Linked DNA regions of Homo sapiens. The protein of the gene in region 1 interacts with the protein of each later gene in a pairwise test. Each region holds a gene or a part of one and is shown in the gene's direction. Other genes may lie near its edges. The genes, in order: TXK and CLNK.

What was found.
Region 2: the proteins of TXK (region 1) and CLNK interact in a two-hybrid assay, tested with the Homo sapiens proteins (one large-scale study listed by BioGRID and IntAct).

What each region holds. Positions count from the first base shown.
Region 1 is NC_000004.12:48,071,584-48,075,409, reverse strand, and holds part of TXK (tyrosine-protein kinase TXK), read left to right. Parts: intron 1-1,356; coding exon 1,357-1,475; intron 1,476-3,735; coding exon 3,736-3,826. UniProt on the Homo sapiens protein: Non-receptor tyrosine kinase that plays a redundant role with ITK in regulation of the adaptive immune response. Regulates the development, function and differentiation of conventional T-cells and nonconventional NKT-cells.
Region 2 is NC_000004.12:10,566,119-10,569,944, reverse strand, and holds part of CLNK (cytokine-dependent hematopoietic cell linker), read left to right. Parts: exon of another isoform or gene 1-9; intron 10-3,794; coding exon 3,795-3,826. UniProt on the Homo sapiens protein: An adapter protein which plays a role in the regulation of immunoreceptor signaling, including PLC-gamma-mediated B-cell antigen receptor (BCR) signaling and FC-epsilon R1-mediated mast cell degranulation.

The sequences.
Region 1 (3,826 bases):
AAGTGCTGTGATTACAGGTGTGAGCAGTCTCACCTGGCCGGCGTTCTTTATGATTACAAAACTCCATGGTGTGATCTCAGATCTCATTTACCTAGGCACATCCACAGCCATTTGTTCACTGGCATCTTTCTGCCTTTCCAAGGGCTCCACCTGGGGAAAAGAGCACTGGTTCTGTGTCACTTTTAAATCCCACCAACCTAATGTGGGAGTAGGAGCTTCTTTCCTAAAGTACTTGGGCAGCCCTTTAGGGTACAAGATACAGGACCCTAACCCACTGATCTACTAATGTCTAGTACCCCCCTTTTCTTTCCCTTCTATTTCCCCCATTCCTCTTTTTGGGGGAAAAAGATCCCCCCAAAGCTCAGGGGATCTTTTTCTAGATAGTGGTGGTAATAGGGGTGGTGGTAGTGAGATCTCACTCCTGTTCATGGCCCATTTTCCAAGATATTTTGTTAATAACTCAATCTTTCTTCTCTGAAGAGCCTAGACTTGAAAAATTCAAAATCTATAAACAGTGGCTTTTCTCTCTTTGTTTTCTGTTAGTCATTCTTTACCTAAGTAGAATGACCTCTGACTCAATAAAGTGCTGACAGGTGGAGGGAGGTAGTGTATTTAAAAAAAAAGTGAGAGTATAGGGGCAGCATTAATAAATGCTGTGAAAACACTATATTGTATATTTAAGGGGCAACAAGCACAAGTTTATTTTTGTCTCTTCTCCTCAGTGTCTGACATTTGGACATCCCGGTGTACAATTCTCAAAAAAGAGAGAGGGTTCAACTTGTTATTTTTTTAAGGAGACGGTAGTTATTCTTGGTTTCTTTCCATATAGGGCCATTCTAGTGCATTAGAGATTTGTCATATCAGAAGCATTATGTTCATATACTTTTACTTTCCCCCCTTCTGTATGCCCCACAAAAAAACATGCACATGGAAGAAAATTCGACATCCAACTTTGAATCATTCATTTCCATTTTAAGAAGAGTGGTCTTTGTTTTCCCCACCCCTGGGAAGAGTGGTCTTTTATTTCCTTTTTATAATCTTGGTTGTTAGAGCCTTTAGCAGGCTTCTTTGTAGAGTTAAGAATTTACCATAATTAACATAAACAGTGAGCCATGTTTTGAACTGAAGCAGCATTATGATTTTCAGAGGTCCACGTAAAACAAATACAATTGAGACTTTGTTTGGGGAGGAAACATTATCAGGGACACTTTCACACTCTACTAACAAGAAGGCATCCACAACCTTTCTGGGGTAAAATACTTTGTCTTTTAGCAACTTAGAGTTAACTAAAGGGATTTGAAGTAAATAGAGCTTGGAGGTAATTAACACAATATGCTTTGAATCTGATAAACTTAGGTACGTTTTGGATGATGAGTATGTCAGTTCTTTTGGAGCCAAGTTCCCAATCAAGTGGTCCCCTCCTGAAGTTTTTCTTTTCAATAAGTACAGCAGTAAATCTGATGTCTGGTCATTTGGTGAGTGCATCTGATGTTCACTTGCTGGAGCTTGATTTAATAAAATGGGCAATGTGTTATTTTTAACTTTGATTTCCTAATTGATATAGCATTTTTTAAAAAGTCTTCTTGTAATTGTGCTTCCTTCTGTGTGTTCTAACCACATCCCGACTGTCTTTGGCAACTGGTGTCACATACCTTCTTACATAAGTCTGCCTTTTGGATCTTTTCCTTCCTCCATGGGCACTCACTATAAAACCATAACAAAGAGTCTACTGATCTAGAAAACAAACTCAGATAAGTTTTCCACTCCGCAGAGGCTTGAAGGAAAAATGATCTTATGACATTGTTTAGAGTGTAATTAATAAACTTAATTGTCTAAACTGTGAAGCAGGTTGACTATTTTCCAGTTGTTCAGTTGTTAACCTGAACTTAAAACCTGAGTTTAAAAAATGGTGGCATCTCATTTACTTCCTTAACTTTAAAGTTTGTGGAATTTAGACATAGGCTTCCTTGGGATCTATAAATTGATATTCATATTGGATAATGTTCTTCATTGAGAAAGAGACACCATAGACCCACGTCCAATGAAGTTTCGGGGTTGATTTTCAAAAAATGGTAATAAATATGCAAAAATCTATCTATCCTCTTTCACCCCAAACTTCCTGGAGGCTTGTGGGTTCTGGGTCCTCAGAAGGGTGTCAGTTTTATTGTCTACAATAAGGTTAAAACTGGGCACAGTGGCTCAGGCCTACAATTCCAGCACTTTGGGAGGCTGAAGTGGGAGGATTGTTTGAGACCAGGAGTTCAAGACTAGCCTGGGCAACCTAGCAAGACTCTGTCTTTACAAAAAAAAAAAAAAAATTAGCCAGGTGTGGTGGCATATACCTGTAGTCCCAGTTCCTCGGGAGGCTGAGGCAGGAGGATTGCTTGAGCCCAGGAGTTTGAGGTTATAGTAAGCTAGGATCGTGCCACTGTACTCCAGCCTGGATGACAGAGCAAGACCCTGCCTCAAAAAAATTAAAACATAAATTTAAAAACATACAATAAAGTTAAGCTTGTGTCATTAATCTCATTAGCTCTCCATGGACATATGATAGTCTCAGCAGGTGACACTTGAAGCTCTACTGAAGAGCAATTAGGTTGTGAGACCACATCTTAGAGACCAATGAAGAGCAATATAACGACCTCATCGAAGGTTGCCAAACAATTAGAACTCCCTGAATTTTACCTACTTGTCTCCCTCACTGAACAGTGAGCTCCTTAGGCACATGGATTGATCTCACACTTATAAAATCTCCAGGCCCCAGCAGAGGCCTCGCCTCTCATCAATGTCTAGTAAATATTTGTAGAATAAGTGAATAATTAAATGAACTCAAATTAGGAGTTCTTGCAGGAGTTTCACTAATCAATCAATCAATGATTATTGGACATCTACTTATGTACAGAGCCCCTGCTAGATATTCTGGGGCTCTGCCCATCAGTCTAATCTTTTAGCAGAAAGAAGGGGACACATGCCATTTACTGGCTGAAACTCTTGGCTAAGTAGGCAGCAGAGGCTCACATAATCCTGTCAGTTTCTATGGAATGGCAGAAAGGTTCATTGATTTCAGGATGCAGGAACGTGACTGCTGCTTAGAAATGAAAATGCTAGGCCGGGCGTGATGGCTTACGTTTGTAATTCCAGCACTTTGGGAGGCTGAGGTGGTCGAATCACCTGAGGTCAGAGCTCGAGACCAGCCTGGCCAACATGGTGAAACCCCGCCTCTACTAAAAATAGAAAAATTAGTTGGGCGTGGTGGTGGGCACCTATAATCCCAGCAACTCAGGAGGCTGAAGCAGAAGAATTGCTTGAACCCGGGAGACAGAGGTTGCAGTGAGCTGAGATCATGCCACTGCACTCCAGCCCGGTAGACAGAGGTTGCAGTGAGCTGAGATCATGCCACTGCACTCCAGCCCGGGCGACAGAGCGAGACCCTGTCTCAAAAAAAAAAAAAAAGAAAAGAAAATGCTACTGGCATTTTCTCCTGATAGGAGAGGCAATCAAGACCCATGGACAAGGAAAGGCATTGTTTTCACTTAGATTATTTTCAGGTTACAGGCCTCTTTGAAAACTAAAGTGAACATGATTTGCTTCCTTGACAGAACCGCTGTTATTCAGGATGGTTATAGCCCAAAGCCTGGAGCACAAAAATAATGCCTTGTAGTTTGAAATTGTTCTTTCAGTTCCCAAGCAATCATTTCTCTCTAACCCCTTGTTTTCCTGCATTTTTGTTTGCAGGAGTTTTAATGTGGGAAGTTTTTACAGAAGGAAAAATGCCTTTTGAAAATAAGTCAAATTTGCAAGTCGTGGAAGCTATTTCTGAAGGCTT
Region 2 (3,826 bases), about 38 Mb from region 1:
GCACATCACCTAGAGAAAAAAGATCCAACAGGTACTGAGTTCCTGCTGTGGAATAGATACCAAAGTAGAGACTTGAGATACATTTTCTCAATGAACAACAACAAGATAAGGTGGGTTTAGTCATCTCCAATTTACAGATTGAACATCTCAGTCAGGGAGCTTAAGTAACCTTTCCAAGAATGCAAGATCAAGAGTCATGTCTGTGCTTACACATAACATGATGCCGGCTGCAGATTTTAATGCGGAGGAGCACATTCCAGAATTCCTATAATGACCATTGTGTGTGAGTGCATCTGTTGCAGACTGGTGTCCATTCCTGCCAGTCTAGTGTTCAGACCCAGAGCCTTTGATAGGTGCCTGTGTTAGTCTTCTAGTGTTGCCATAACAATATGCCATAAACTGGATGGCTCAAACAACAGAGGTTTATTTTCTCATGACTCTGAAGACCAGAAGTCCAAGACCAAAGTGCCAGTAGGGTTGGCGAGAACTATCCCCTTGGGATGCAAATGACTACCCTCTCCCTGTGTGCTCACATGGCCTTTCCTCAGTGTGTGCATTTGGGGACGGGTGGGGAGAGAGAGGGAGAAACCCAGAGAAAGAGAGAGAGAGAACTCTCTGGTGTCTCTTCTTATAAGAACACTAATCCTATCAGATAAGAACCCCACCCTCAAATGTTGTGCAGTACCAATGGTCTGTAACCTGGTCTCCTGGCTCCATTTCAGGAATGGAAAAATGACCAAAAAAAAAAAAAAAAAAGGGCAGTCTTGGCCAATTCACTTGGGGAGGAGGTGGCTGGGGGAATATGAACCCACAGAATTTTCTTGACTATACATTTTACCTAAATTCTCACACCTAAACCTGATCGAATGAACTAGAATTTCAAAAATGATGGTGTCAGCTTTAGCACAAAATTTCACATTGCAGTTGCTTTTACTGTGATAGTGTCACATTTTAAGACAATATACAGAGAGTGGTGTCACTTCTTGAGGCCCCACCCTTCACAGTAAAGACCCAAATAATTGCATTTGTTTTCCATTGCTGTGATGTCACATCCCCACAGATTTGGCAGCTTGACCATTTATTATCGCACAGTGGATGCAATCAGAAGTCTGGGCACAGCATGGCTCAACTAGTTCCCCTGTTCTGGGTCTCACAAGACTGAAAGCAACATGCTGGCAGGGCTGCATTCTCCTCCAGGGGCTCTGAAGAGGAACTTGCTTCCAGATTCTTTCGGGTTGTTTCATAGAATCCAGTTCCTTTCTGTTGTAGGACTGTGGTCCCCATGTCCCTGCTGGCTGGCTGTTGTCAAATCCTTCTACTCTTGGACTCCTCTATCTAAATTGTCCTTCTGCCAGATCTCTCTTTCTTTCTTGTCTACTTCCTTTCTCTGACTTCCTCTTCTGCTTTTTAAAACAGGTTTTTCTGAGATAAAATCTACCTGCCATTCAATTTACGCATTTTATGAGTACAATTTAATGGTTTTTTTGTATATTCACAGAGTTGCATAACCATCACTCCAATCAATATATTTTTATCATCTCAAAATGAAACCCAGTCCCCCCTTCCCCCAGACCTTGGCAAATATTAATCTACTCTTTATCTATAGATCCTCCTCTTCCAGACATTTCATATAAACAGAATCATGCAACATTCCATTTTGTATATGACTCCCTTCTTTCATTTAACGTAATATTATCAAGGCTTATCCATGTTATAGCATATATCAGTACTTTACTCGTTTTCATTGCTGAATAATATTCCATTGTGTGACTATACAACACTTTATTACCTATGCAGTAGTTCATGGATACTTGGGTTATTTCCACTTTTTTACTATTAAGAAAAATACTGCTATAAACATGTGCTAGTTTTTGTGTGAATGTGGAGTTGCTGGATTATATGGTAGCTCTGTGTTTAACCTTTTGAGGAACTGCCAAAGCATTTTCTGCAGCAGCTGTACCCTGTTACATTCCCATCAGCAATGCATGAGATCCTCAAATTCTCCACATTCTTGTCAGCCCTGATTATTTTCTGTCTTTTTTTAAATCATCTTGGTGTTGTATGGCTGACATCTCATTGTGCTTTTGAGTTGCATTTTCCTAATGGCTAATGATATTGAGCATCTCTCCATGGGATTATTGATGGTTTGCATATCTTCTTTGAAGAAACATCCATTCATATCCTTTTCCCACTTTAAAATTTGGTTATTTATCCTTAGATCATTGCATTGTAAGAGTTTTTCATATACTCTGGATTTAAGCTCCTTATCAGATACATGATTTGCAAATATTTTCTTCATTCCACAGTTGCCTTTTTATTTTTTGTGGTCTTTTGAAGCACACAAGATTTTCATTTTAATTAAGTCCAATTTATCTATTTCTTTTATTGCTTGTATTTTTTTGTTCTATCTAAGTAATCATTGCCTAAGCCAAGAAATGAAGATTTACTCCAATATTTTAAGGGTTTTATAGTTTTAGCTGTTAAATTTATATTCAAGGCCCATTTGCACTTAATTTTTGCATATGATATAAAAAAGAGGTTCAGCCTCACTGCCATGCATGTGGATATCCAGTTGTCCTAGGACTATCTGTTGAAAGACTATTCTTTCCACCCATTGTATTGTCTTAGTACACTTCTTAAAAATCAATTAACCCTCAGTGTGAAGGTTTATTTCTGGACCCTCAATTATATTCCAATTATCCGCACATCTATCTTACTACCAATACCACATTGTCTTGATTACTGCATCTATGTAGTAACTTTTGAAATAAGTGTTAGTCCTCCAACTTTATCTTTTTTTTTTTTTTTTTTTTCCCAAGATTGTTTTGGCTATTCTTGGTTCTTCTTATTTTCTTAAGAATTTTAGGATTATCTTGTCAATTTCTGCAAAATAAATCAGTGTGTTAATTTGCAAAGTATTTCTATTTTAACAAGATTAAGTCTCCCAATCCATGATCATTAGTCATCTTTCCATTTATTTAGGTCTTCTGAAATTACTATCAACAGTGTTTTTGCAGTTTTCAGTGTACAAATTTTGCACTTCTTTTGTTAAATGTATTTCCATATATTTTATTCTCCTTGATGCTATTGCTAATATAATCGTTTTCTTTTTTAAAACATTTTTGTACAGATGAGGTCTCACTCTGTTGCCCAGGCTGTTCTCAAACTCCTAGCCTCCAGCAATCCTCCTACCTCAGCCTCCCAAAGCGCTGGGATTACAAGCATGAGCCACCGCACCTAGCCCATTTTCTTAATTTCTATTTTCAATTTGTTATTACTAATTTATAGAAATATAAATTGTCATTACTAGCATATAGAAATACAACTGAATTTGGTATATTAATCCTGTATCCTGCCACCTTGAGGAATTATTTATTAGTTCTAATAATTTTTTAGTGAATTCTTCAAATACAAGATTATCTTATTTGCAAGTAAGTCCTCTTTCTGCTTCTAAGGGTTCATGTGATTACATTGGGCCCACCCAGGTAATCCAGGACAATCTGCCTATTTTAAGGTCAGCTGATTAGTGACCTTCATTACATCTGCACTGTCCCTTCACAGCAGTACCTAGATTAGTATTGATTCAGTAACCAGAGATGAGAATATTGGGAGATATCTTTAGAATTCTCACTAGCACAAGAATTAAACTTCTATTTAAGATCCCAGACCCTAGATTCTTAAATATTTAACTTGCAGCTAAGAAGGTCTACCCCATTTCTCTAGCCAGCACTGTAGCCTGTCTTTGTCAACATTGTACCTTCCTTTGACTCACTGGAATGTTACCACCTGCTTAGGAAAGAAACTTTGCTGCAGTCCTGGATGGAGC